Linked DNA regions of Homo sapiens. The protein of the gene in region 4 purifies or fractionates together with the protein of the main gene of each other region. This does not show direct contact. Each region holds a gene or a part of one and is shown on either strand. Other genes may lie near its edges. The genes, in order: DLG3, PARN, AMOTL1 and TEAD4.

The links.
Region 1: the proteins of TEAD4 (region 4) and DLG3 purify together in Homo sapiens (affinity purification with mass spectrometry; 3 studies listed by BioGRID and IntAct, with this or other methods). This does not show direct contact.
Region 2: the proteins of TEAD4 (region 4) and PARN purify together in Homo sapiens (affinity purification with mass spectrometry; 3 studies listed by BioGRID and IntAct, with this or other methods). This does not show direct contact.
Region 3: the proteins of TEAD4 (region 4) and AMOTL1 purify together in Homo sapiens (affinity purification with mass spectrometry; 2 studies listed by BioGRID and IntAct, with this or other methods). This does not show direct contact.

Annotation. Positions count from the first base shown.
Region 1 is NC_000023.11:70,475,819-70,482,841, reverse strand, and holds part of DLG3 (disks large homolog 3), read right to left. Parts: exon of another isoform or gene 5,214-7,023; coding exon of another isoform or gene 5,210-5,213; intron 3,693-5,209; coding exon 3,578-3,692; intron 1-3,577. UniProt on the Homo sapiens protein: Required for learning most likely through its role in synaptic plasticity following NMDA receptor signaling.
Region 2 is NC_000016.10:14,606,259-14,613,281, forward strand, and holds part of PARN (poly(A)-specific ribonuclease PARN), read right to left. Parts: intron 4,552-7,023; coding exon 4,386-4,551; intron 2,866-4,385; coding exon 2,800-2,865; intron 2,062-2,799; coding exon 2,023-2,061; intron 269-2,022; coding exon 226-268; intron 1-225. UniProt on the Homo sapiens protein: 3'-exoribonuclease that has a preference for poly(A) tails of mRNAs, thereby efficiently degrading poly(A) tails.
Region 3 is NC_000011.10:94,763,676-94,771,370, forward strand, and holds the start of AMOTL1 (angiomotin-like protein 1), read left to right. Parts: upstream 1-4,680; 5' UTR 4,681-4,836; coding exon 4,837-4,885; intron 4,886-7,695. UniProt on the Homo sapiens protein: Inhibits the Wnt/beta-catenin signaling pathway, probably by recruiting CTNNB1 to recycling endosomes and hence preventing its translocation to the nucleus.
Region 4 is NC_000012.12:3,032,378-3,039,400, forward strand, and holds part of TEAD4 (transcriptional enhancer factor TEF-3), read left to right. Parts: intron 1-5,590; coding exon 5,591-5,731; intron 5,732-7,023. UniProt on the Homo sapiens protein: Transcription factor which plays a key role in the Hippo signaling pathway, a pathway involved in organ size control and tumor suppression by restricting proliferation and promoting apoptosis.

The DNA.
Region 1 (7,023 bases), on a different chromosome or scaffold from region 4:
CAAAAAATCAGCCGGGTGTGGTGGCAGGCGCCTGTAGTCCCAGCTACTCGGGAGGCTGAGGCAGAATGGCGTGAACCCAGGAGGCGGAGCTTGTAGTGAGCCTATATCGCGCCACTGCACTCCACTCCAGCCTGGGCGACAGAGCGAGACTCCGTCAAAAAAAAAAAAAAAAAAAAAAACACCACACATGTATTTTCCCAAACCTGATGAATCCAAAGCACTAGAAAAGGAGCCTGGGAATCTGTATTTTTACTAGCATTCCAGCTGATTCCTATGAGGAAGTTGGGGAAACACTGAAAGAACCACACTTTATAGTCAGAGCAACCAAGTTCAAGTTCCAGTTTTTGAACTTCTTAGCTATCTAACTGGAGTCTCAGTTTTCTCATCTGCAAAATGGGAATCATAATATCTACTCTGTAGGATTATTAAAGGGATATTAAAAGCCATTTAAAGAGAATAACAAAGGTCTTGATGAACAATGTGTTCCCTAAATGTTTGTTCCCCTTTATCTTGAAGACACTGAGGAACTAGTGAAAGCTTTTGAGCAGATCATGTTCAGATTATTGCTTTAGTTTCAACCCCCTCTGCAATACCCAGGCAAATGGTTGCCCAGCCTCTTCTGTAACACCTTGAGTGACTAAAGATCGAATTTACTATATCCGGAAGCAGTCCATTCCATTTTCAGACAGTTTTAATCATTAGCTCTTCCTTCCTTATGTTGAGCAGAGATCTGCCTTGGGTGACAGAACAAATCTAATCCCTTTTCCACATGATAGGGTGAGGCAATTAACTTAGATAAGGAAAGTACATGCCGCTTGTTTGAGGCGCTGAGAGGGCAGTTTTATTTATGCACATGTCCAGCAAGTAGTAGATATGCAGGTCTGTAGTTCAGTAAAGAGATCAGGAATGTCATTTATACGGCAGGATTTGAAGCTGTGAAAATAAATGACATTGCCATTTAGGGGGGCAGAGCTAATGAAAGGTATTAAGGAATGGTAAGCAGGGTAGAAAGAGAGCCTTTAAAGAAGAAAGCAGGTAATTCATGGAAACAAATGTGGTGAAGAGGTCAGAACAATGTCAGAGAACCAGTGAACCAGTCACTAAATTTGAAGACTAAGAAGTCACCCACTGATCCCTGACAGAGAGTCAGGTTTCTGCTCCCCTGGAGCTTTCCAGAGCTGTTCAGAGCCACACTACCACACTGAAAAGCAGATGCACGCTTCCTTTCGGGCTAGTGAAAGAGAAGTGATTTGAAGCAGCAGCAAGTACTCCAACATTTCCCAACCTGGATGTTGACATAGGTTTCTCAAATAAGGCTCCCACGCTCTATCTTTTGGGGAAACACTGCCTAGTACAGTCCTTCCTGGAGATTAATCACAGGAAAGAGCCCCATTTTCCTCTGTTTAAGCCTGCATTTGCCCAACTTACTAAACCACTGATTTTTCACACAATACTTAGTAATATCTTGAGGAGCTAGTGTTTTCTGGCCAATAATTTGGCAAATGCAGTAAGCAAAGGGATACAAGACAATAGTTTAAGGGACTATTGGTATCAAGGGATATTTTCTTCTTTTTAAGAATGGAAGAAGCTTAAATATGTTTACATGCTGAAGAAAAGGAACCAAGTGTAGAGTGAAGGGCCAAAATCAGGAACAAAAGGGAAGAGAGTAAGCCAGGTTCTGATAAAGGGGTTAGCTTAGCAAAGGGCCTCAGCTCAATGCTTTAGCCATAAGACATTAAGTGCCCCTGATTAAATCTAGTGATCACAAATGGTTACTATTTTCCTAACCACATCTACTTTCCTCAGAGGATACAGATAATTTATCTAGAGAAGGTTACGGGCAGATTATATAAACTGATTCACTAGACACAGTCATGGTCTCCACCCTCGCCCCAGAGTTAAGCTAAGTGTATCCCTTTAATTCCCTTGCCTGAGCCAGGGAAGAGTGCTCCATATCGGGAGCCAATGTCCCACTCCCCCTGCCCAGGCAGAGAGAACTCTAACACAGGATAGGCGGAGAGGGGAAATCTAAAAATAAAGCTCTCCAAAGAAACTGTCTTGCCTAAAGAGCAGCTTCCCACGCACACTGGAGTGCCACATCTGCGGGGGCTGGAAGCACGGAACGGAACAATCCTGACCAAGTCATATAACCATTACCTATTTTGGGGGGTCGACAGTGCATTTCTGATTTCACCCATCAGCACCCCAGTATCCAGGCTGCAGACTGGGAGCAAGGGCTTTAGTGACAGAAAACAAAACTTTCCTTTCCGGGGAATTGGAAAAATGACCAGTGACTAGTCCCGCCTTCCTACCATTCTCCCTTCACAGCGGGAGGTAAGCATAGCACATGCTTTCAACACACAAGGGGTGGAGTTGAGGGTTCACATTAGGAAAGATTGTGAAGGGTTCTAGTGGGCTTCAGGCTCAGAGATGGGCTCCTTTAGCTCCACTCCCTGCGGTAGAGTCAGGGACCACCAACTGGGGAAAAAGAAAAGCAAGCACCATGAGAAAAACTGCAATTAGCGTTGACATCCCTTCACTATTGTCCTCTCACACCCCAAGGACAGAGCAGTTGTCACGTTGCCAAGCAACTAGCAAGTGCAACTTCCCAGCCAGGTATCAGAGGCCACTAGAAAAAGTTCAGCCCAAGAGTTTGATATGACCCCACACCTAAGCATTAAACACAATACTGTAGCAACTTCTGGCTCAGGAGAGTAATCCCCACCACCTTTCTCTAAGGGCTTTAACCTTGGAGGATACAATGTACTTGGCACCAGATTTTGGAGTTTTGCCAAGAAGCCAAAGCAGGAAGAAGGAAGCTATCCCTAATTCTATGAGGAGTCCACAGTATTCACTTGGCACTCCAACTCCCCAGGAGATTTGTACTTTGACCTGACAAAGTATTAAGCTATGCCTCAAGGGTCAGAGAAGCTCAACCTTGGAAATATCTTGGAATAGCTTTCAGCAGCAATATACTCCATGCTACCTATCTGTTCCCTCCACCCCCTCCCTCTTCCTAGGGCACATACACTATACATCCCATGATTCATAGATACAGCAGACCAGTGCAGCGGGTGGTGAGGGGGGAATGGAATCACAATAAAACATCCAGAATGCAGCAACCTGTCAGTTCTTTGGTCTCTTAAAAGAGATCCTGTACCAGAACACTGCGATAGTTGCTATGCTCAGATACAAATCCTGATGTCTATTATGCATACATGGAAGGGGATGGGGGGGTGGCAAGTTTCCCCTCAAAGCACAGATTGCAAGCAAAGTACTTTGAACATTTGACTGATATTTGAATGCTGACTAGCAACAATCACCCAACAGTCTTTTACAATTAGAGCAAACTGAAATTTTCCCATACTGAGTCATTCATGAGCTAAAAGGAAGAAGCCAGCTCACAAAAGGGAGGAGACACTGACCATAAAATACACAACCTAAGCATACAGTGAGAAGCGTTATTTTAGAACTGGGAGTACATACTCCCTAGCCCACTAGTTAAATAAGAAGGGCTGGGTTGGCATGGAGCTCTCCTCGTCCAGCACAAGGGCTAGTGCTCTGAAGGGCAACTTACCTGACATACAAGGACCTCTTTTCACTTGTTCGGAGGGACCCAGACCCAGAGCTCATGCTGCTGTTCATCATTTGTTCTCGTAAGTCATGTATCTTCGATTCAAAGCGACTGTATTCTGTCACGGAAACAAGGGAAAAGATGGGAAAAGAATGAACTCAAGGAGCGCCTCTGAGCTTGCATGCCAGCAGCCAAAAAGCCAGAAGGCCCCTTGGCTTAAAAGCAGCCAGAGCCAGCCCACTCAGTCTTTGCTTTGATAAGCAAAGTCCCTCCTCCTAAGCACAGAAAGACAGACTTCCCTTCAACCCCAGACTAACAGAAGGAAAGAATGCACCTGAAAAGGGAGTAGCATTTGGGCAGGTCAAATGCACAAAGCTCTTATCTGCCTCAAAATGTCACTGATCCTTTATAAAAATAACAACTGGAAAGAGGTTCCAGTGCAACCTTTATAAATCTTTAGAGCTGACACTAAGGCCCAAGGAGAGCAGATGGGAAAGGAGACTTTCCCAAAAAGCGGATTGCAGAGAACAGATGGCCCTGAGACGCAGAGCGGAGGGGCTGGAAAGGACCTGAGGTCAATTATATCATTGTTAGGCAAGAAGACAATTTTTTCAGGATGACTTTTTGGCTGGGGTGAAGGGGGGTGATATTGGAACCCAGTACAGAGGTAAAAACAAACAAACCTCACAACCGTAACAACCATATGAGGAGAATTAAAGCTCTCCTGAGTTATTTCCCTTTTAACCAATAGCCTCTTTGGCTTCAGTAGCATACATTAAAACATAAATTCTCCCAAACCGAGAAGTCGGCTGACACCTCTCACCTCCAAAATCATCCAGTCAGTGAGGTCATAAGTCCATCCCTAACCTTATAGCCCATTGAGACCATCACAACAGCTGGAAACAGCCTTATCACTCTGGAAATGTAATACAGGTTTATGCCGAATTTAAGAAAACCTGATACAAGAAAATTAACTCTAGCTGTACAATTATTATAAAAGGCTTTTTATAGGGCTGCTTTGCTGTGACATTCTCCTAGGACATTTAAAATACAATATTCACACTTACCAAACACACAATTACACATTTTCCAGGCCTATAATTGCCGCATAAAATGGGGTATATCTAAGGCCACAGGCCGTGGAAATGCTAGAAAACAGGCACACTTCACTATGACAAGCTGACTTTGAAGCGAGTCAAAATTTATACTAGGGGTTGAAGGTTGGGAAACTGCTTTAAAAAACAAACACACTTCCAGGGGAAAAAATTCCACAAAAGCAATTTCGTGCACCATAGAGGGCTGGCAAGAAGCATCCCCACCTAGTCCGTATGACTCTACAGGAGAAAACAAAACACCTGTTCCAGCACCTGACACTCCCCTTCCCTCTGCAAAGCAACCAGACTGACCTTCAACTGGGTGTAAGGGGAATTGCTAAAGCCTAAAGGGGAAGGAATGGAGTGAGGCAAATAACCTCCTCTCAACAAAGTTTCTTTTGTTCACTGTGATATCAGTTTAACCAACGGGTTAAATTCGTGTGCTCTTTCATTCATCACACGCCGGTGTTATGGTGATTTGTCCTCATTACCTACTCCTGTTCCTGAAATCCTGGAGGAAGCAGTTAAGTCACTGACTCACCCATTAAACGTTGCGGGGGGTGGGGTGGCGGAGGGTAGAGAGACAACAGCTGGACAATGTTCCTGTTCTGAGGGTTACACGGCAAGCCATCAATATCAATGAGGTGCCCCAACCTAAGCCCTGGACTGTCCTAGAGCATAACAGCAGGCCAGTCTACCTCTGGAGACCGCCTGGGTGCTGGCCCCACCCCAGGGCTTGGCCCTCTACACTGGGTGGGGATTGTTTCTCATTTGTTCCTTTCTGGCCCTCCTCTGAGCTCACCGGCTATGGGCAGAACCGTGTGAGACAAAGATTTCTGACCAGGCAGCCCTTTCTTAGGGGAAGATAAGTCAAAGAGAGAAAGAACTATGCATTGAACTGTGAACAAAAAAGTACACCCAATCTATCTTTAAGCCATGTTTTCCCCTTCTTGAAACTTGTTTATATATTCCCTTCTTTGGAATCGACTTGCCCGCTGAACTCCAACTTAGCAGCAGGTCATGGCAGTTGCTTAGTAACTACATTTCTTTAAAAATCCTTTAAAAAACAACCACGAAACCACCATTTCCTCAAAGCTCCTAATCCAAGGCTGATAATTCTGGGCCAGAGGGCCCACTTAAAATAGACTACAGAAAGAGAACAAAGCTATTGCTCTAAGGCATACGCTTTTTGTTTTTACATGTGCTGCTAAAATTTCAAGTTTATTAAATTGTGTTTTATTCACTTTTTTTTCCATTTGGATGATTCCCTTAGAGTTCCAGCTGCCCATCAGTCTCTGGCTTTTATTTGTAGATTTATCTAAAGTCTACTAGGCAGAGCAGCCTTTGAATAAATGATTGTTGGGTAAATGAGGAGCAAATTAGAAAACTGTGTCCAAGTTGACACTTCTATTCTTAAACTAATAAACTTAATGGTTTATTTAACTGATGGCTGCCAGCTTCACTGAGGGCTTAGAAAGGTGGTTAAGAAGCATTCACATTTACTTTTGTTCCCAAGGTTAATTGTTGGGAGCAATTGGGGTTTATTATTTTTAAACACCCTTTTGAGATGTTAACAACCCACAATAGGCGGCTGATTAACAACTTTTTACAACAAAGAAAAATCATTCTAACAAAAAACTGTTTAGAATAGACTTAGATACTACCTCATCTTAAATATTAGAGGTATCATTTTCCCAGGACAAAAGCTTCCCTTAAAAAGCATCTCAATTCTAAGACTTCAGGACTCGCCAAGCTCCCTCCTTCCCTCTGATTTGTCACTAACACAGCCATCGCAGCCAATGCTGGAGGACATCTCCTAGGCCAAAGTCACCGCCTAGGAAGCCCACCTGACCAGCCTCTAACCCAGAGGGCCCACTTCAAAGAAGCAACACTAAAATCTCAAGTCTACTAAACTGCTTTGTTTTTTCCCATTCAGATGAACCCAACTGTTTGTGACCCACAAAGATATCCAGTCATCGCCCTCTTTCCTTTTTCCCAGTTGCTAATCACAGAGAAACAAGTGGGAGGGGGCACAATCAGAAGTCAGTACCGAAGAAGGGTTTTGCCCCAGTCACTGACAAGTTGGGGTGCCTCTAAAAGATCAGGATTTGGCACCCCATCCCAGATACACAGAATCAGAATCTACTGAGCAGGGGCCCAGGAATCTGCATTTTAACAAGCATCAGTGTGATTCTGATAAAGTTTGGAGCTGCTGGTCTTAACTTACAGAATTGGATCCTGCAGTGTCTCTGAAAAGAAAGGTGGGGCCAGAGAGTGGATAAGCTCTCAAAAATAAAACTTGGTAATACAATTGCAAATCCTTCAGGAAAGGAAAGCCCTAAAGATGCCACAGTC
Region 2 (7,023 bases), on a different chromosome or scaffold from region 4:
AGCATGGTGGCACGAGCCTGTAGTCCCAGCTTGGGAGGCTGATGTAGGAGGATCACCTGAGCCCAGGAAGTCAAGGCTGCAGTGAGCCGTGACTAACCACTGCACTCCAGCCTGGGTAATCAGAGAAAGACCCTGAGGGAAAAAAAAAAAGAAAAAAAAAAGAAACCCCTAACAGTGTAACAATGGATGTGTTTAATGTTAGCCCTAGATAATTCTTGGGGTTACCTTTTCAGTTTCTAAAGTCTCAACATGAATGCCTTTCGGATACCTAAAGAAAAGAAAAACATAGTATCAGTAGATGAGTCAATGACAGCTAAATCCCAAAGTATTTTATAAGCAACTATCCAGCTACTAATTAAGTAAGTTTTATTAACTACAAAATAATTATCACTACAATGGAGACTTTACAGCACATTTATTTTATAACGTTTCAGCTGCTAAATGTTTCCTTACCCTTGCTCTTAAACACATAAACGTGGATTTGACTTCAAATTAATTTTTTTTAGGACTTAGGTATTTTCTATTTTTTTTTTTTTTTTTGAGACAAGAGTCTCTCTCTGTCGCCCAGGCTGGAGGGCAGTGGCGCGATCTCGGCTCACTGCAAGCTCCACCTCCCTGGTTCACGCCATTCTCCTGCCTCAGCTTCCCAAGTAGCTGGGACTATAGGCACCTGCCACCACACCCAGCTAATTTTTTGTATTTTTAGTAGAAACGGGGTTTCACCGTGTTAGCCAGGATGGTCTCGATGTCCTGACCTCGTGATCCTCCCGCCTGGGCCTCCCAAAGTATTGGGATTACAGGTGTGAGCCACTGCGCCTGACCAGGACTTAGGCACTTTCTAAAATGTCCTACATCTCAAAATACAGTCAACTCATTACCACAGAGTCAAATCTTGCTTCCAAATATAAAAATGTTTCCTAACTGAAATTGTGAAAGTCTTTTTATTTTATTTATTTATTTATTTTTTTGAGATGGAGTCTCACTCTGCCACTCAGGCTGGAGTGCCAAGCCGCAATCTTGGCTCACTGCACCTCTGCCTCCAGGGTTCAAGAGATGCTCCTGCCTTTGCCTCCCAAGTAGCTGGGATTACAGGCATGTGCCACCATGTCCGGCTAAATTTTGTATTTGTAGTAGAGACGGGGTTTCACCATGTTGGCCAGGCTGGTCTTGAACTCCTGACCTCAGGTGATCTGCCCACCTCGGCCTCCCAAAGTACCAGGATTACAGGAGTGAGCCACCGCGCCCGGCCTGAGTCTTTTTAGATTGCACAGGGCATATAAAGAGGAGGTTTTAGATGGCCAGCTCTGCTGTAGTTTTGCATGGTATTAACAGCTTGCATCAGCCAAGGAGGAGAGGGATCTGGAATGCAGGTGGAGTAGGCTGCAAGGACGACATGACAGGAAAGGAGTGTGGGCAAACTAAACAGCCCTTTCCTGTTGTGTTCAAAGTATATTCCCAGTATACATGTCACTGGTAGATTCCAACAGAAGAACAAGGTCCCCAAAGTCAAATGGAAATGTCCACCTGTCTATGTCAATGTTCAATTTCTGAGTTGAAGACCCACCTGCAAACACAAGGAAACCAAGGGAAACATCCTTGGAAAAATACACACACAAAAGTCTGGATGTTATTTCAGGGGATTCACAGACCTCCTGAAACCCATCCATAGTCTCACCCTAAGTTAAGAACTCTTGCTTTACCAAAAGCATTCATCTGAGTATTTCCTAGGTCTGAAAACCAAATATTTATTGTATACCCCAAAGGACAAAAACACTACCAATCCATAGCTTAACAGATGCACCAAAGTGATAATTATTTTAAGAAGCCTTAAAGCATCTGTTAAAAAACAATAACAAAAGAAAATTAAGTGAGTATTCAACTTAAGAAAGTAGGGGGAACTTCATGTAGTCAAATCACTGAGAACCGCAGAATTTCAAAAAGGAAATGAGAACTAAGAGATTATATTTAGTCTTTAAATCCTGGGTCCCCCACAGAGCTGCTGCATACAATATAAATACTTACTTCCAGCTCAAAGTCTGATAAATTAGTTTTCTTTGGAACCTATAAAAACAAAAGAAAAGGTATTGATTTTGGCTCATTAGAAGTAAATCCAAACTGATCAAGCATTTGTTGAGAAGGATTTCGCTTTAAAAAGAGACTTCATTAGAACTGATAGGTAATTTGCAAACAAAAATACGCAGGTTTTTTGAGGTGGGGGGATTTCCTCATCACTTGTCTTCTAAAATTTTCTTTAATATTATGCTGCTTTTACTGAAGAGGTAGAAGTTCTCGTCTAATCAAAATATTGCTTCCTGCAGCTGCATAAAGAGAGCTTAAAGTAGACAGATGCATTGAAATACTTTTGTGAAACTCCTCACAAAGTAAAAGGAAAAAAAGACAATCACGTTACTGACTCTTTGAAATGCTAATGTTCTCTGAATACAGAGAGAAATTAAAAGGGTGGAAGTAGCCTGAAAGTGAATTCTTTCTTCTGAAGCCTTCACGTATTAAGCGCGCCTCAAGGCCAAATTAATTATGCCACTCTTGGGCATAACTGAAAGTCAAGGTTGCACAACAGTTTTCTCCGCTCCAAGTACAGGACAAAGCATTCATTCAGTGTCTCAGTATACACAGTCATCCCCACTGTGTAACGCTAAAGTTAGTGTTTAATTCTTGAGAACATAGCAATAATAAAAAGACCCTTTATAAAGCTGTTTTTAAAAGACTAGATGCATCAAATGCCACAAACCATCTACCTTTCCAAAAAAAGGACATGCAGAAATGTTCAGGACAACTAACCCGGTACATGGCTCTAAATCCAAGTTCTTGTTTTCTTCACTTTGTAATAAATCCTCTATTTTCTCTCTGAGGAATAAGAATAGACCATAACCATCAGTACCTTTAAGGAATGAAGTCATCAACCAAGAAAATAATCACAACCAAAAACAGTCTAACTATAAGAACATGTGACAATGTAATTCTACCAAATTACCCTAGAAATTTTAGTTCAAAGACTTTTTTAAAAATGCTTTATTTTGACCTAGGCATAGAATCCCAGCACTTTGGGAGGTCGACGTTGGGTGGATCACTTGAGCCCAGGAGTTCGCGACCAGCCTGGGCAATATACTGAGAGCCCCTCACTACAAAAAATAAATCTTAAAAATTAGCTGGGAGTGGTGCAGTGTAACTGTGGTCCCAGCTACTCCAGAAGCGGAGGTGGGAGGATCACCTGAGCCCAGGAAGTTGAGGCTGCAGTGAGCTGTGATCGCATCACTGCACTCCAGCCTTGGCAACAGAACGAGACCCTGTCTCAAAAAATAAATAACATAAAATAAAAAAGCTTTATTTGGCGTATTTTGGGGGGAAGAGGGTTACTGCTGCTATTTATTAGTGACAACTTCTCAAGGACTCGTCAATACAAGTGATTTAATTTTTGACTTTCCCAGTAAAATGGTTACACCAACAACTAAGCTGAGCAAGACCAGACACTTGTCCAAAATCACATCTGCTTGTCGGCACCTTTACTGCAAGCAAAGAGAACATGGACATGCTACAGGCTGGATAAGCCTGATCCACTCCTCTGCCTTCAAGGACATTGGACAGTGGCTGTCAGGTATTCAGTCCATGCAAGTTTTAGAAGTCAGCTGATTAGCATTTAAAAAACAAGAAAAGGGGCTGGACAATGGCTCACGCCTGTAATCCCAGCGCTCTGGGAGGCTGAGGCAGGAAGATCCCTTGAGCTCAGGAGTTTGACACCAGCCTGGGAAACATAGTGAGATCCGTCTCTATTAAAAAAAATAAAATAAAATAAAAAATCCACGCAGGTCTGACCACGTACTGAAATCTCTTGCCTAGTGACATGTAGCAAGTCCAAGTACAATACATGGAACTCTATTTACAATTTGTTGCTGTTACACTAATTTGAATATGCCGGCTAGGCATGCTGGCTCATGCCTGTAATCTCAACACTTTGAGAGGCTGAGGCGGGCAGATCACTTGAGGCCAGGAGTTCGAGACCAGCGTGGCCAACATGGCAAAACCTCGTCTCTACTAAAAATATAAAAATTAGGCGGGTGTGGTGGTGCACGCCTATAATCCCAGCTACTCTGGAGGCTGAGGCACAAGAATTGCTTGAACCTAGGAGGCAGAGGTTGCAGTAAGCCAGGATTGCACCAATGCACTCCAGCCTGGGCAAAAGAGCAAGACTGTCTCAAAAAAAAAAAAAAAAAAATTTTTTTTTTAATATGCCACAATTATATCCTGCCATTCACAACATCACACCCGTGTGTGTACTATGTTTGTAAAGCACAGGTTTGAGATATAGATGCCTGTCATCCCCAATATATAGCACACAATGCACGCTTAGTTTTAATTTAGGAACTTACACCACTTGGTCAATAAACTTCTTTTGATCCTCAGGAATCGTGACAGGACATTTTGAAGTGTTAGGAGATACATAGGACAGAGCTCCTGCACCATTCGCCTGTGAACGTTTTTCATCATACTGCTCTCTTAACTGTCTTTCTTCTTCCTGATTTAAATATGGAATTCCTAAACACGATTTTAAAAAGAATGCATTAGCAGAAGTAACTGTCTAACATAAAATTTGTTTAACAAACCAAAGAGTCTAAATTACTCAGGAAAGATTTACCATATTTAACTACATCTCAAAAAATGAACAGAAAGGCAAATGATTTTGAAATGTGTTTATCATTCATCCATTCATTCAGTCTTCTTTCAAGAAATATTTATCTGGCACTTATGCTGTGCCAAAGCATTATATTAGGCACTGGGGAATGAACAGTGACAAGCTGATGCATCCTGCTCTGTAGTGAAGGGAACTACTTCTGACAAGAAAATCAGGAAAGTCAGGGAAAACCCAAAGGATGAGAATAAGTCGGATACGAAAGGAGCTAGGGGAAGAGTCCTTCGGGTAGGGGAAACAAGTATTAATACCCAGAACATGGAAATGGCTTGGACGGTTCCAGGAGCAGCAAGGAGCTGGTGTGGCCAGATGTCATGAGCAAAAATGGAATGGTACAGCATCACATTGGAGAGAGTATGGAGCAAGATTCTGCAGGCCCTCACAGGCCAGTGTAAGAAATGTACATTATTCTAACAGTGGCTGGACAACATTAGAAGATTTTAAGCAAGATAATTACCTTACCTGCATAATGTTTCAAAGGCCATGATGACTACTCTGAGAGTGAAGTTAGGAAACAAGTCAGGAGCAATTGTCCAGGCAAGAGACAAGAGCTCAGATCAGAGGTCAGCAAACTTTTTCTTTGTTTTGTTTTGTTGTGAGACAGTCTTACTCTGTCACCCAGGCTGGCATGCAATGGCACAATATGAGCTCACTGCAACCTCTGCCTCCCAGGTTCAAGCAATTCTTCTGTCTCAGCCTCCCGAGTAGCTGGAATTACAAGCGTGCACCATCACACCAGGCTAATTTTTGTATTTTCGGTAGAGACAGGGTTTCGCTATGTTGGCCAGGCTGGTTTCGAACTCCAGACCTCACCGCCTGCCTCAGCCTTCCAAAGTGCTGGGATTACAGGCGGGAGCCACGGCCACCGCGCACGGCCAGCAAACTCTTTCTTAAAGGGCTCGATGGCAAATGTTTTAGGCTTGTGGGCAATGGGGGTCTCTGTCGCAATACTCAACCCTGCTGTTGTGGCACAAAAGCAGCCATACACAAAATGTACATGTACGGGCATAGCTGTAGTCCAACAAATCTTATTTACAAAACAAGGAGCCAGCAGTGGGCTCTTGTTTGTAACCCTGGTGTAGAGATGGCAGGGTAGAAGGAGACAGTGATTTTCTAGACATAAGACGTAACACTTACTGATATCCTGGAGATGAAGGATAAAGGGAAAGGCAAAATCAAGAGTAACACCTTGCGGCCGGGCATGGTGGCTCACGCCTATAATCCAACCACTTTGAGAGGCCGAGGCGGGCGGATCACAAGTTCAAAAGATGGAGACCAGCCTGGCCAACATGGTGAAACCCCGTCTCTACTAAAAATACAAAAATTAGCTGGGCATGGTGGTGTGTGCCTGTAGTCCCAGCTACTTGGGAGGCTAAGGCAGGAGAATCACTTGAACACAGGAGGCAGAGGTTACAGTGAGCCGAGATCGTGCCACCGCACTTCAGCCTGGCGACGGTGTGACACTGTCTCAAAAAAAAATAAAAATAAAAATAAAAAAAACACCTTGCTATTTGGTTCAAGCGATTGGGAAGATGGTAGGGCCACTAACTGATGTGAAGACAATGAGGGGAAAAATAGGTATCGGGGTCCAAGGAGTGAAAATCAAAAGCTACCTTTTGGACATACTATTTTTTTTTCTTTTTTTTCTTTTTAGAACGAAGTCTTGCTCTGTCACCCAGGCTGGAGTGCAATGGCACGATCTCGGCTCACTGCAACCGCCACCTCTCGGGTTCAGGCAATTCTCCCGCCTCAGCCTCCCAAGTTGCTGGGATTACAGGCGCCCGCCACCATACCCAGCTAATTTTTGTATTTTAGTAGAGACAAGGTTTCAACATGTTGGCCAGGCTGATCTTGAACTCCTGACCTCAGGTCATCTGCCCATCTCAGCCTCTAAAAGTGCTGAGATTACAGGCGTGAGCCACCGCGCCCTACCACGGACATGTTAAATCATCTAAGGGAATACACAAATTAAAAGCTGCAGTTACAAGCCTATAGCTCAAGAGAAAGGTGTTGAGATATACATTTAGTTATCATTGGGACACGGGTGGTATTAAAATCCATGGGGACGGGGCGCGGTGGCTCACGCCTGTAATCCCAGAACTTTGGGAGGCCAAGGCGGGCAGATCACCTGAGGTCGTGAGTTCAAGACCAGCCTGACCAACATGGAGAAACCCTGTCTCTACTAAAAATACAAAATTAGCCGGGCGTGGTGGCACATGCCTGTAATCCCAGCTACTCTGGAGGCTGAGGCAGGAGAATCGCTTGAACCTGGGAGGCAGAGGTTGCGGTGAGTCAAGATTGCACCATTCCACTCCAGC
Region 3 (7,695 bases), on a different chromosome or scaffold from region 4:
TAGAAAAGAAAATGTTATTAAGAAAATCACAAGGCAGAGATGATCATCATAAAAGTCTTCATCCTTGTCATCTTCACATTGAGTAGGCTGAGGAGGAGGAAGAAGGGGGTGGGTTGGGCTTGCTGGTTCAGGGTGGCAGAGGTGGAGGAAGATCTGTGTGTAAGTTGACCTGCACTGTTCAAACCTGTGTTGTGCAAGGGTCTGCTGTATTGCCATTGTAAAACAGAGAACTGAAAGAAAAGGTTGGAAAAAAACTTCTCACCTGGTGATTATATAGGGGTTTATTAACTCTGGGGTTGATGTGACCATTTGATGTTTATAAAAAGAAGAAATTAAAAGAAAAGGTGTTTAGAAGCATGGCAGCGTATGCTTTCCTTCCTTGTGTCCATGCCTTTGCTCGAAATATCCTCCTCTCAGCACCTGGATTTCTTGGAACTTGCCCGTTTTTTTCCTGTGCATCATTCCTCTATGCTCCCATAATGCTTTGTGTCTAATCTCTAGTGTGTTCACCATCATTTTTTATCTTTAGCATACTACACTCTGATGTAGTAAATACTTCTGAAAGTGAATTGCAGGAGCACTGACTAACCCCAGTGAGCCAGCTGGAAACCTCAATGTGCTAGGAGTCATTTCGAGTGGATTCTAGGACTGCACCTTTAGAGATTCAGAAATTTGGAGGTGGAACATGAGGAGTTTAAATTTTTACATGCTTTGGTTTCATAAGTTACACTTCAGAAAGTGCTTGAAATTGAACTTAAAAAATATCCTTACTTGTTCTAGGAGCAAAACAAGCATTTTGATCAAAGCAGCCTGGGTGCATCAAATCATTGGTTTGTTCATTCAACAGTCATTAATGGAGAACTACCAGTTGTAGCGATGGTCCCAGGTGAGGCTGTGTGTAGTAGCTGTTCCTTACGTAGTCATGTTCATCCACTCTTCTTTTGCTGTTTGGCTTCTCTGTCTTTGCAAGCCCAAGCCCATTCTTAGGGCCCATTCAGTGAAAGTATTAGCTGGTAAAGACTTTAAATGTTTGTCAAGAAGGGGTGCTGAGAAAAGTGAGAGGAGAAAGACATTTGCATTTTAATAGAGTATTTAAATTCCTTGGTATTTCAAATTACTGGAGAAGAGGAGGGTTTCTAACTTTTACTGAATTCCTAGATGTGCCCAGCACTTGACCTGTATTATCTCATTTAACCCTTGCAATAAGTTTATGAGGCAAATGTTATTATTTTATAGAGGAGGAAGCTGAGGCTCTCCGTGTCTAGAAATAGATAGAACATGGACTAGAAGCAGGTCTTACTGTAAAGGCCCTGCTCATTCTCCTCTATCCAGATGCCTCTGTTACTTCAACATTCTTCCCGCCTCTATGCTTGTTGGGAACAGCTTGGTATCACTGGAACATCCTGGTACTCGTCCTGTTTTGAGTGAAAGACTGCTCTCTGGGCTGCCCCAAAGAGCACTAAAATTGGCCCATCATCTTCTTAGCTTTCTTAGGAATGAGTAAATGACAACTTGGGTCACTTTAGAAAGGATGCTGACCTTTAGGATGAGTGCATAGATCTAAAGAAGGCACAGATGTGGACTGGTTCACTACCTTGCTGTTAGTGAAGGTGTGTTCAATTTTTATTGTAAACATACTTTGTTTCCATTAGACACAAACCAGACATCAGAATCTCCAGCCAAGTGTGCTTACTGAAAGATGTTATTGATAACTTCTTGCTAGTGAAATTCAGAGTCTTTTTTTGCAGGCCTTAGTTCCTGAACAATAGATTCAGGAACTAAGTTAAGGCCTGAAAAGATTGTTTTCTGCATTTGATGTAGAGCTTATTCACAGATAAGGAAATTAAGGCACAGGAGGGAAACATTGGTCTCCAGCAGTGTTTTCTGCCTGTGCTTCCATGTATCTGATTACTGGGTATTAATTTGAGGAGTCTAGGCTAGGTCCACCTGATTGAATCAGAAGATCCTTGAACCCACAAGCTGTGCCTAGCACTTCATTGCAGGTCTAAGAATCTGTAGCATTTGATAGAAGGACCCACTTCTTAAAACTTCCTCTGGCTTCCATGCCTTTACCTTTTCCCAGCTCTTCTACTTCTCCAGATTCTTCCTCTTCTCCCTCCTTCTTTCCCTGTTTTCCAGTTGTGGACATTCTGTTAATGAACTGATCTTCAAAGCTTCATCTCTCCTTTTCTCTACACCTCTGTCCTCCACTTCTCACCCAGTCCCTTGTTCCTTGTTTCCTCTTGCCCAGAGGATAGTAAGTCACTCAGCATCTTTCTCAAACCGTTTCCTCTTCTCAACTGTGCTTCATCTGTCATTGGTCTAATGATCCATTCTTCTAAGACTGCAAGATCTATTCTTCCTATGACTGGGCTCAAAGCCTAGGTTAACTTGATTACTTTGTCCTTTTCCCCAGGATAAACAACGAGTCAATGAGAAGAATAAAATCTTGCTTCAAAGATTTGATACCTTTCTTTATGACATCTGGTATCTCCAAAGATATGGTATCTCTCATTTCCTTTTTATCACCTCTGTCAACCTCACCTATCATTGCTTCCTGCAACTATCCTAGATAGTCTCTTGAAATAATAATAGCAAATGTATATTGAATACTACATGCATTGTGCTGAGTATTTTACATTTGTTATTTTATTCAGTCTTCACAACCACTCTGTGAGATGCTATTTTCTTCATCTTGCCAAAAAGGATACTGAGGTTTAGAGAAGTTAGGCAACTTGCTCAGCGTCACACAGATACTGAATGGTGGAGCTGCAACTCAGCTCATGCCTGTTTTGTTCTAAACTTGATGGTTGTAACTTGGAAATTTTGCTGCTTCCTAGACTATAGGATGGTATCTAGGAGTGGGCAATTAGTAAAGATTAGTTTCCTTTCTTCTTTTTCTATCCATCACTTCTTCCCCAATTTGTATTAAATTCGCGCAAATGTTAGGTGAATCAGTGGTCCCTTCACTGTCCATAAGATAACCACTTCAGCTCCTAATTTGCGATTCAGGGTTCACAATGTGTAATACAAGGCACATTGAGGCAGAGGTTGTTTCTATACCTGGCTTTGCTACTAAACTTGTTCTGTAACATTGGACAAGTCATTCAACAGCTATGCCTGAGCTTCTTCATCCGGCAAGTGAAAGGTTTAGTTGACACTTTCTTAGATTCTTTCCAGGCCTACATTTTTGTGACGTTGTTATTCTGCCTTCCCTTGTTTTCTCCTCGTTTCTGGTAAAAACGCTTTCCTCTATGCCTTCTTCCCAAGCACCCAGACCTTGTCATCTCCCTCTTGGCTTTTGCCTCTGCTTGCCCAGTGCTGCCTTTTCCTCTTTCTGCTGTGTCTGAACTCCACCACCCTCCCAGGCTTTTCCTTCTGTGTAGTCAGTGCCTCTCTCCGCCCTTCCCAGGCATCTGCAGTACTTGGATCTCCTGCTTTGTTGCTTGCCTGTTTTCTGTTCACACATCTTGTCTTCTTAGACAGATAACAGATCCTTGAAGGGCTGGTCAGCTGCTCTAAGTTTCTTTTGTGTGCTAAGTTTCTTTTGTGTGTACCAGGGTAGATGACTTTAAATGGAGTAGGCATTTCATAAATAATTGTTAAATGATTACATTTGGGCTTTATCTTGAGAGCAGAGTTTACTCAGTAGGAGGGCCCATCAGGGGAATCAGAATCAGGACATGCAACCCACCAGAACTGATGAGAGGTAAAACTGCTGGCAGTCTAGTTAGGGAACTGCCACAATCCAGGGAGGAGTCCCTGAAGGCCGGACCTAGATAGCAGGTAAACAGAGGCAGGGAGCACCAGATAAGAGAGGCTTGGTGTGCGCTAACTCTCCCACTAACATCCTGGGCAGCAACTGTACAGTTACCTAGCTTTCTCTTCTCCAAGCAGTAGAGCTGCCCGGAAAAAGCCAGGCAGAAGTGCTATGGGGCAGGCTCGGGCACCCCAGATTAGGGCTCCAGAGAGCCGCCAGTATAAACCAATATAATGAGGTGGATGAGTAGTTCTCAGCACAGCCTGATTTTAAGAGGTGGGGCAACATTTTCCCAGAGTCGCTTACTTTCTTTACCTCTACTCAGGCAGATAACAGCCTGGGGATTTATGGCCAGAGGATGTACGGTTCTGCGAACACATTTAATATCCGAGGCTGTCAGGTCTGTTTTGGCCCTTCTGTTTGTCAACGGAGCACATAGTAGCAGCTTATCGCCCAATCTCAAGTGCGTGATGGAAGCACTGGGGCCTGGGGAATGCTGAGAAAAGTGTGGCCACTTTCTACCTGGAAATTCCACTTAAGAAGAAAAAAAACCAACCTAAGCAAATCTAGACTTTTGGGCAGATCCGGAAACAGAATTTTGGCCGGCATTGGGCTGGTGGGGAAGGAAGACAAAGTGGAGGGAGAACTGGTGAGTCTGAAATTAATCAAAACCCGGCAGGGGACAAAGGAAGGGATGCTGTCGCCCTCCTAAGTCTCAGGGAGACACGTCAGCTTGAGCTCTGGGCAATTTCAGCCTGGCAGTCTCGCGGCCCGGGGAGGGGCGGCGGGTGTCTGCAGACGGGCTCTAGGGCCCAGCGGCCGGGCGCCACGGCGGGGGTGGAGTGTAGGGTTCTAGTGACGAGCCCGGGCGACCCTCCCCGGCCCGCGCGCGGGGAGCGGGGAGCGCGGACGGCGGCGGGAGCGCGCGAGAAGCTCTAGGACCCAGCAGCGGTTGTCGGGTTTGGGGCTGGAGGTGAAGCCCTGTGTGAATGGGGTTGATTGTCCGGCGCCACTTCCCCGCGCTGCCCGGCAGCCGTCTTCCCCAGCCGAGGGACTGAACTAGCCATGATCGCCTCATGTGGAGGGCAAAGTTGCGCCGGGGAACTTGTGAGCCTGCGGTGAAAGGTAACCAGCCCCCACTCGAGGTGCCGGGAGGGCGTCTCCGAGTCTCCCACGCGAAGAACCCAGTCGCCCCGGGCTCCCCGGGCCCCTGCTGCTCACGGAAGGGGGCAGCTTCTGGGGGCCCGGGGCTGAGATCCCAGATTGTTGTTTTTAAGCGGGTTCCCTTGCCCCGCTCCAGGTCCAGTTGCCTGCGGGCCGGGCCTCAGCGTCTTGCCGCCCCGCGACCCACGTTGACTGAAGTTGTGGCCCCGGGGTTTGGGCCCCGGGGTGCTGCGCGCCCGACGCGGGGCTGGCCTTTCCTGAGGGGCGCAGCCATATGGCCAGACACTCCGAGGCGCGCCCGCGCCCGCGCGCGGGTCTCGCGGCGAGGGAGGGGACGGAAGGGGGTGTCCGGTGCAGCTTTCCCCGGCGCGAGACAAAGGCGCGCGCACCGGCCCGCCCGACGGGCTCTGGCGCTGTGGACTGGACCCTTTCTGCCCGCCGGCCAGACCCGGCTCTGGCGGGTGGGGGCGACGAAAGGGTCGCACCCCAGCCCCAGACGCTCGGATCGCGTTAGCTGCTGCTCCTTCTTTGTTCTCTCCCCAGACAAGTTTCTTTGACAAACTGGAGAGTTACATCCAGCTCCCGCTTGCCTGTTAGGGCTGCCTTTACAATAATCTGCTTTCGCGGGGAGAAAATTTAAACTTTCCAAATGGAACTGTTTTTTCTTGGAATGTGACATTTGTGGCAGGAGGGAGAGTGGTACGTTGGCCGATGACAGCCGAGCGGAACGGTGGCCTAGTGCCGGGACAGGGACCGAGCGTGCCCCATAGGCGGCCGGGCTGGAGGACGCGGCGGCAGAGCAGACGAGCCCTGGCGCGCACCTCTAGGGCCTCCGCTACCTGGACTGCGCTCGCGGCGACGTGTCCAAGTTTCCCCCCTCAGAGCCCCAGGCCGAGAATCCCGGGTATCTGCGCAAAGCTCCCGCGCCTCGCCCACCCTACTCTTCCTATCTTTACTGATGACTAGGAAGACTTTCCTTTTCCATTTTTGTTCGAAGATTTTTGCCTTTTTGGCTTCGGTGTTGGTTTCCTGTCTCCGCGTGGCAAATACCTTTTGGCCGGGCTAGCGTGTGGATCACCTGGACTGGGGTTTCAGAGGTGGGCCCTGAGCGTGCGGCCTCCTGAGACGATGCGGTTTGGACCCAACATTTTGTCCCCATGGTCCCTCAGCTCCCTTTCTCTGTGAGGCCTTGGTTTCCCATTTTCTTCTCCTGAGGCATGTTATGAGAACTGAGTTTTTGTACTGCTTATAGAAGGCCTTGGTGGTGGTGGGGTACGTGGTCTCGAGAGCCAGTTGTGATACCTCGAAGATGCTTTCGGCTAACCAAAGCAGTAACGTGCTAACCTGCTCACCATAAACGAATTAAACCAGAATAGAGGGCTATTAATAGCTACAGTTCCAGAAAATTTCCTTCCTTTTCGGGAAGCAAAAAGTCAAGGCTTGAAATATTAAACAATCATGGCTCCCTGCTTCCAAAACTGGCCTATGGGTCACTGCCAAACTGGCTAAGATTTCCCCTGGCTGCATACCACTCCTGGGCCCGGGCAGCTGTGGAAGTCAGACCCAGGTTAACGATTAAGGAGCTCTCTAGATTGCAAGGTCTTAAAGAATCTAGAGCAACTGACATTTACTTCCTAGTAAGGTGCTCTGAGCCTTATAGTGTGTATCTACTTTGAAGGCTCTTTATGAGAATAATGTGGGAACAGTAGTTTAATATACTTTGAACTGTTAGTAAAGGGTGGAAAAGCACTGATTTGACTAGAATGAAGGAAAACACCGATTCGACCAGAATGAAAAGGGTAGGACATAGGTAGAAGGCTTTATACAGGCTCTACTTTTCCTTATGATGGTGGTGGGGGTTGGGGGGAGGGATGAGGATGTTTAGTTCTTGGAGTGCACTTTTGTTTTTCTGTGATGCATTTTTCAAGATAAATAAGGAAACCTTTGTAAACCTGCAGGTGGATAGGAGAGAAGGTGCTGTACCTGTAACGCCCCTTTCCCTCCCCCTTCTTTTTAAAATGCACAGAAGTCTTGGTCTTTCAGGTTCTTTGCAGATGATGGAGGATGTAGCATACTAATTTTCCAAAGGGCATGTGGAGATCAAAGCATTTAAAAATACATCTTTTCACGGAGGCTAATGGAGGATTTTCAGTTTAAATGAGATTTTAAAGTGCTGTCGTTAAGAAAAACACATGAATGCAGAAATGTGAGTGATTTTATGGGAAAGCACTCCGCTGATCAGACTTGAGAGTGTCTGCCCTGGGCCAGTTAGTCTAGAGGCTGTTGTGGGTAGAGCTCAGCTTTTCTGATGTCTACCCCTAAGGAAAAGTGTGGACCCAGGGCCTAGGGAAAAGATGGCTGAACTAATTGAAATGAGCAGTCTGGCTGGTGAGAGTTCTGTTGAAAGGTATAGCCTCTAGGTATCAGTGCTGCATTTCTTCATAGTAATTTGTGAAAATGCTTTGAAAATGATAAAACAAAGACTTTTGAAAAAAATAATTAATGACATGAAATGGGAATTGCTAGTGAAAATTGTAAAAGTTTGATTTTTCAGGCCAATAAATTAAAAAGAAGTAACTTTATAGGACCTGCTAATATTTCTGATATATAAAATTCCCCCAAAGTAACCTTTTCTATTTTCTTTTCTTTTTGGCGGGGTTGGGGGGGGGGTGCGGTGTGTGGCTATCTGCATTTTAAATGCATAAGGAAGCTCAGGTCAGAAAATTCTGCAGTGTTTTGAATAATTTTTCTCCTATTTTTCATTAATTTTG
Region 4 (7,023 bases):
GGATCCAGCGCGAGTCTCGGGGTCCTGGGACAGGAGCCGCTGGACAGGGGGCTGTGGTGTGCCCCCCAGCAAGGCCCTTCTGATGTGTCATGGCAGGGCACGGTGGGCAGCAGTTGGCCCCAGCTGGGGCAGAGTCTCAGTTCTACCACTTGAGAACTGTGTCCTGGGCAAATATTGGCTTCTCTGTGCCTCTGCTTCTTTGTGTGAATAGTCAGCAGTTTGATCTTGGGGACCTGCCAGGGGCTGTGTCGCTGAAGACCCCGTGTATGTGGCCGGCTGGTACTGAGTGGGGGGCTGTGGCCTGCCCTTGCCCCACCCCTTGCCTGAGCCCTCTGAGTGCCAGCGGCCTGGGCAGGTGAAATCAGAGATGAGGGAGCGCCGGAGGCCAGGGCACCTTGGCGGTCATCTGCTCCCTCCTCCGCATGTGTGGGGCGGGCAGAGGCACCAGAGGAAGACACATATGTGACGGGGAAAGGTACATATTCGTGTTTGCTGACAATGAGACTTTGCGTCAATCGTGGGTCCTCACAGGCTGCCCCGGCTCCCCCCGCATCGGGAAGCTCCTGTCTTCTGCTCCCTGGCCTGGTCCCGCCTTCCCCCTCCATCAGCTGGTGTGAACTTGGCCACACACAGTTAGGAAGGAAAACTGCTCAGGCAAGGAAACGGTGTCGCCTCTCCCGGAGCCTTTCTTTTCCTGCCTGGCTGTTTTCTCAGTCCTGGCTCCCAGGCCCTGAATGTGTGTGCTGGAGAGGCAATCAGAACCCCCTTGGAGTGGGAGGAGGACTTGTCCGTCTCCAGTCCAGCCTCCCTGCCTGTCCCCTGAGTTACTGCTCTTACTGAGGGCGCTGTGGTGGTCATTCATAGACTCTCGGACTGCTGGGACACATTTCCAGCTAGAAGTGGCATCTGCCAGCCTGAAGGGCTGAGGCTGCTAGGGCTGTGCACAGCCTCAGCCCTATCTGCTGAGCGCCACGGGGCCTGGAGCGAGGGACTGATGCGATGAAGCTCCCTTCCTCCCCCAGAGCCCCGCAAGTCCAGCAGAGGCCACCTGTCTCTGGGGCCGGTGAGAGGGGGCCTTTGGTGGCCATTAACGCCGCTCTGCACATTGGAAATGCCAGGCAGAGCCGGGCTGCACCGTGGAGGCAGCAGAGTACCCCAGGCCTTCCTCCCATCTCAGCCTGCTCTTCCCTTTCAGTCCCTGACATTTCTCCCAGGCACATACCAGCACATGACAATGAATCTGAGCCCCTCCAGGCCCCCACACCCGGGCTGCGGCTGTCTCTGCTCATCTGTCAGTCACCCGATCCCCCACACCTGTTCCAGGCACAGCTGCCCACCCGCACGCACAGCTATGAATAGGGCGGAGGGAGGGTTGCAAGGGGGCACTCACAGGGCAGGGGACCGGGGCAGCTCTCATTTTTTCTTAGGCCAAGAAGCGTAGCTTGTTTTGGGTGGTTGCTCAGTGTGGGGGGATATGAGGGTGGACAGGAAATGTCAGGAAGGAGTATAGCTGCAGGAGAAGGGGTGAGGCTGTAATTAGAAGGATCCAGGCACTGAGGACGAGTCGAGGTGCTCTGGGGCGGTTCGTCCGTGTCGCCGGCTGGTGTGTTCCGGGTTTATGCAGTGTGAACATGAGTTCTGGGGCTGATTGTGGGATCTCTCTTTCTCCCCCTGACCCATTGCTCAACCCTAGCACTTGCATTCTATTTGTTCTCCCGATTATAAATTCCCTGAGAGCAGAAACAATGTCTCAACCTCTCTGGGCCCCCCTGCCTCTAGCACTGCTGGCCTGGGCTGGACAAATGGGCACCTGAGCGATGGGAAGAGCCAGGGAGTGGGAGCTGATGACAGAAGAGTGTATCTGAGATGGGGGTGGAGCTGGGGCGCAGAACTCTCAGGGTGAGCAGGACAGGGTAGGTTCCTGCTTGCGCCTGAGGGACCTTGCTCTTCCCACTGGTGCCACCCGGAGGTGAGAGGGTGAACAGCCGCCTGCAACCTTGATTGAAGGCCCACCCTACTAAGGCCCTGGGAGAGCTTAGTTCTTGCCTCCAGGGAGCATCGTATCTGGAAGGGGGCAAGGACATCTGGACAGATTATGACAAGCAGGGTAATAGAGGGGGATCTGCCAATTGCTCCTGGGGGCTGGGGGCAGCCGCTGCCTCTGTGTGTCTGGAAGAGCTGGGAGGTGTGGATGCCAGTCCTTCCCAGCTTGGCACACTGGATTCTTCTAAGATGGCACGTGAATATGCATTTTTTTAAATAGTTAAGTAGTTGCCCAGGCTCAGTGGCTCATTCTTGTAATCCCCCCACTTTGGGAAGCTGAGGCAGGAGGATCACTTGAGCCCAGGAGTTCGAGACCAGCCTGGGCAACATGGCGAAGCCCTATCCCTGTGTTTTAAAATAACTTTATTTGAAAATATGGAAAATAGTTATAGGCCAGACGCGGTGGCTCACGCCTATAATCCCAACACTTTGGGAGGCCGAGGCAGGTGGATCACTTGAGGCCAGGAGTTCGTGACCAGCCTGGCCGATATGGTGAAACCCCACCTCTACTAAAAAAAAAAAATACAAAAACTAGCCGAGCGTGGTGGTGGGCACCTGTAATCTCAGCTACTCAGGAGGCTGAGGCAGAAGAATCACTTGAACCCGGCAGGCGAAGGTTGCAGTGAGCTGAGATTGCACCACCACACTCCAGCCCAGGCGACAGAGCGAGATTCCGTCTCAAAAAATAAAATTAAAAAAATAGTTATATAGTTATTTTCATATATATTAGAAAGAATAGAATCCTTGATTTCATGGATTTATTGCTTAGAATGGAATTAAGGAATAAAAGTGAGTTGATTTCAAAGAATCAGGATGTGTCGTAGATGGCACATGAATGTGGCATTGATCAGAGGGACCATGCGCGGTTAAAATCTGAGGGTCACCACCATTGATGCCTGGCCTCACCTCTTGGTGTTCCCCACCATGTCCAGTGCATCCTTCCCAGGCAGCTGGGCTTCCTGCCAGCGGCATTTCAGGCATTGTTCACATTTTTGCCCTGTGCTTCCAGCTACAGAATATGTCCTGAGCACACAAACTGTCCCCCAGGCCCTTTTTAGGAACAGTCTGACAAAGTCAGTCTCCTAGGAGGAGCAGGTGACTTCGAGAAAATAGGAGACAGGCCAGGTGCAGTGGTTCACACCTGCAATCCCAACACTTTGGGAGGCCAAGGTGAGAGGATCACTTGAGGTCAAGAGTTTGAGACCAGCCTAGGAAACAGCGAGACCCTGCCTCTACAAAAAATTTAAAAATTAGCCAGGTGTGGTGGCACATGCCTATAATCCTGGCTACTCAGGAGGCTGAGGTGGGAAGACTGCTTGAATCCAGGAGTTCGAGGCTGCAGTGAGCCGTGATCATACCACTGTACTCCAGCCTGAGTGACAGAACAAGATTCTGTCTTTAACAAAAAAAAAAAAAAAGAAGAAGAAGAAGAAAACAGGAGCCCGAAAGCCTGGGTTCTGGTCCCATTCACCTTATATTTGCCTGTAAGACCTTCGGCCAGTCACAGCCACAGTTAAATCTAGTCCGGCAGAGGCCTCAGCCACCTCTGCCATGCCATCCTGGGCACCCTGCCTACAATGTGTCATCCCCTCCCTCCCAGCATCACAGATGGAGACAGAGTGGGGAGACTGAGGCCAGCTCAGGGGTGGTAGTGGAGGGTGTTTAGGATAAATGCTGCTGTCTGTTTCAGAGGCTGAGCATTGACACGAATGCTTTTTTTCCCTAAAGGCCTCATCAAAGCCGAGGCAGGTGCACTGAACCATATGCCATTCTGTTTCAGCATGAAAACAGCCTTTTTTTCCTCATCATAAACGTAATCCACCCTCATTCTGCTCCGTAGCCTGCTTTCCCACTCAGTGTGTTTGTAGTCATCCATGATAATAAATGCAGGTCCTTCTCAGCGTTTTTTTGTGGCTACATAATGTTTCTATTGTGCTATAGACAATCAACACCCACCGCCAGTCTAGAGAAAGGTCCTGCTCTGGGAAAACTTCTCCAAAGGAGAGAAAAATAACGATTGAGTGTCCCCTCATGGCCAGTAGTAGAATTGCTTGGTGCCTGGCTCTGAATCTGACCAAAACCTTCCTGGGGTTCTAGGGATCCCCTTATCTTTGCACAGAAGAGTCCTTGGTGTCAGAACCTTGACCAAGGCCTGACGCTTTACTGCATTCGTAGGGCTGCGCTCTGGGCACAGCTTGCAGTGATTTCAGACCGGGGTGTGGGTGGGAGGAGCGGCCTCCCCTGAGAATAAGCCTTTGTAATGTGCCTGTGCGTTGTTTCTGAGTCTTGACTTGTTCTCTTAGCACCCCTGGCTCAGATGGGGTGATTTGATGTGGGGCTGGAGTTCTGGGCATGGGGACCCCTAAGGCGTAGGGCTTCAGGAATACAATTCCTGCCTCAGAGTCCCCAAAGCACCAAATTGTCTCATCTGGTGCCTTCCTTTCTTCGCTGTGGCACTCTGCTGGTTTGGGACAAGTATTGGGGTTGGAGGCTGAAGACCTGGGGTCTTTCACTTACTAGTTGGATGGTGTTGGGCAAGGCTAACAGTCAGGACCCCTCATGGATAAAACCGAGGCCGTGGTTTTGGGTGTGAGATCAGCACAGAGTCTTACTCCGCCTTTTCTAGAAGGGAAGTTTCAGATCAGCCCCACATCCAGCAGGAGGCCCCCTGGGCTCTGTTTTCATCAGGGGAAGGAAGAGCAGCCTGTCTGAGGCAAGGTGAGAAGCTGACCTAGAGGACCAGTGTCTGGGCCTGTGAAGGGCCTTGTGAGCCAGGCCGGGGACCAAGACTCCTGTCCCTTGTGGCTAAATGGCTCAATGAGACGGTGAAGTGACTTGACTTCTGAAGAGATTCCCGGGGCAGTTAAGAGAATGAACCAAAGGGAGGGACAGCTGGTGCTGGGGAGATTGCTCTGGAGGCTGAAGCAGAGATGTCAAAAGATCCAAGGTGACGGGACCCAGCAGTGCCTAGAGGGGGAAGAGGCCAGCCCCAGAGCCGTTTCTGAGGGAGCATCGATCAGGTCTCTGGCGAGACAAGAGGATGAGACAGGAGCAGCATTCACCCCTTCCACCCTCCCCACTGCCGGTCTCTTGCCCTGGTTTTCTGTTCTCATGCTTCCTGCACTATCAAAATTGACTCTGGAATAATTCTGATAGACGCATTCAAACTAAAATAGAGCTGACTGGTAGAGATTCAAACCTTTGCAGTTTAACAAGAACAAAGTCTTAGACTATGAAACTTGAAATCTTAAAGATGGAATCTGGGGCTCCCACCTGCTGGGTGTGTTAATATCTGGGCAGGCAGCAGTGGCCTGAAACTGTGTGGGTCCCAGTGTCCTCTTTTCCCATGATTTAGGCAACACGACCTGATTTTGTACCAGGCAGAGATGTAGAGGAATGTGGAAGCTTTCTGGCGTCCTACTGTCTACCCTCAGTCTGATTTCTTCCCAGCCCTAGAGCCGGGACCGGGACCCTGAGGTCTCCTTGATGCTCCCGTCTGACATGGCACCTGCTGACACTCCCTCGCCTTCCCACTGTCTCCCTCCAGGCAGACCTCAACACCAACATCGAGGATGAAGGCAGCTCCTTCTATGGGGTCTCCAGCCAGTATGAGAGCCCCGAGAACATGATCATCACCTGCTCCACGAAGGTCTGCTCTTTCGGCAAGCAGGTGGTGGAGAAAGTTGAGGTAGGAGGCCACCCTGGCGGGTGAGGGCCGGTGGCAGTGGTCTGTGTTTGCTGGGCATGGCTTCCATTTGCTTTCAGGAGGAATGCCCTCCGTTAGGGAGCCAGGATAATCCCTTGTTGCCTTCCCTGTCTGCTGTCAGTGCTGTGTGCCTCCCACACTCCCCTTGGCACCAGTGTCCTGCCCAGCTAACCAGAGCCATTGCTGCCCTTTCAGGATCTTCCAAGCACGTCCTTGCAGGCACCCCCGGTCCTCTCCAAGAGCAGAGCCGCAGCACAGGCAGAGCCCTGGGCATCTACCTAGTCCAGCCCTCTGGCTTCACAGTGGAGGCCCAGAGAGAGCGGAGGCCTCCCACCAATCGCCCGCACATGGTCACACAGCTCATTAGTGCAGAAGCAGGGCTAAGATCTCTGTCCCCTGCTCACTTTGAACTCCATGAATGCCTAAAACTGTTCCTTCCCTGATTTTCTGCTTATGGGTACCCTGGAGACCCTGCTCTAATGGAAGTTACAGAAAATTCAGGCCTGCCTTTTATGGTTTCTCCCACTCTGCTAAACCCCCGGCCAAGGGCAGTGCAGGGCAGTGGTGAGGAGCATAAGCGCAGGTGAATCCCCACCCAGGCACCCTGCTTTCCGGTGCGTGTCTGGGGGGTTGTGATAAAATCCTCTGTATTTTGGCCCTAAACAAGGGCCAAGTTATCTTCACTGTCCGTGACACGGTCTCCTGCAGCACCCTGTGTTCTGGGCCCGCTGCGTAGTGGCAGTGACAAGGAGCTGGGACTGAAGGCCTCCAACCCAAAGCACCTGTGGACTCTGAGAGTCCGGGGCCCTGTGCCGCCCACACACTTGTTAAACCTCCTCACCGTGCAGGCCAGTCTTCGTCCCTCTCCTCACCCCTTCCCCAGATTGGTCTGAATTAATGAAGTCCTACTCTCACAGTCTGTCAGTTATTGATAGCCTTCCTCATGCCAAATGCAGCCAGATGCCCGGCCAGCACCAGGGAGGAGACATTACTCCACACAGTGCTTCTCCGCCTGGCTGCACCTTGCAGTCTCCTGGGAGCTTTGGAAACACACCAGTGCCTGAAACCCATTCATCACCCCTCAGTCTCTAGGGTAGAGTCCAGGCATTAGTGGTTTTTAAAAAGTTCCTCAAATTATTTATTTCTAATTAAACTTGTAAAACTTTTGAGATAATGGTGGATCCACTTGGGCTCATAATCCCATGTGCGCTTTACCCAGCTCTTGCCCTGGCCATATCTTGCATAACTAGAGTGTAAAGTGGACAACCAGGAAA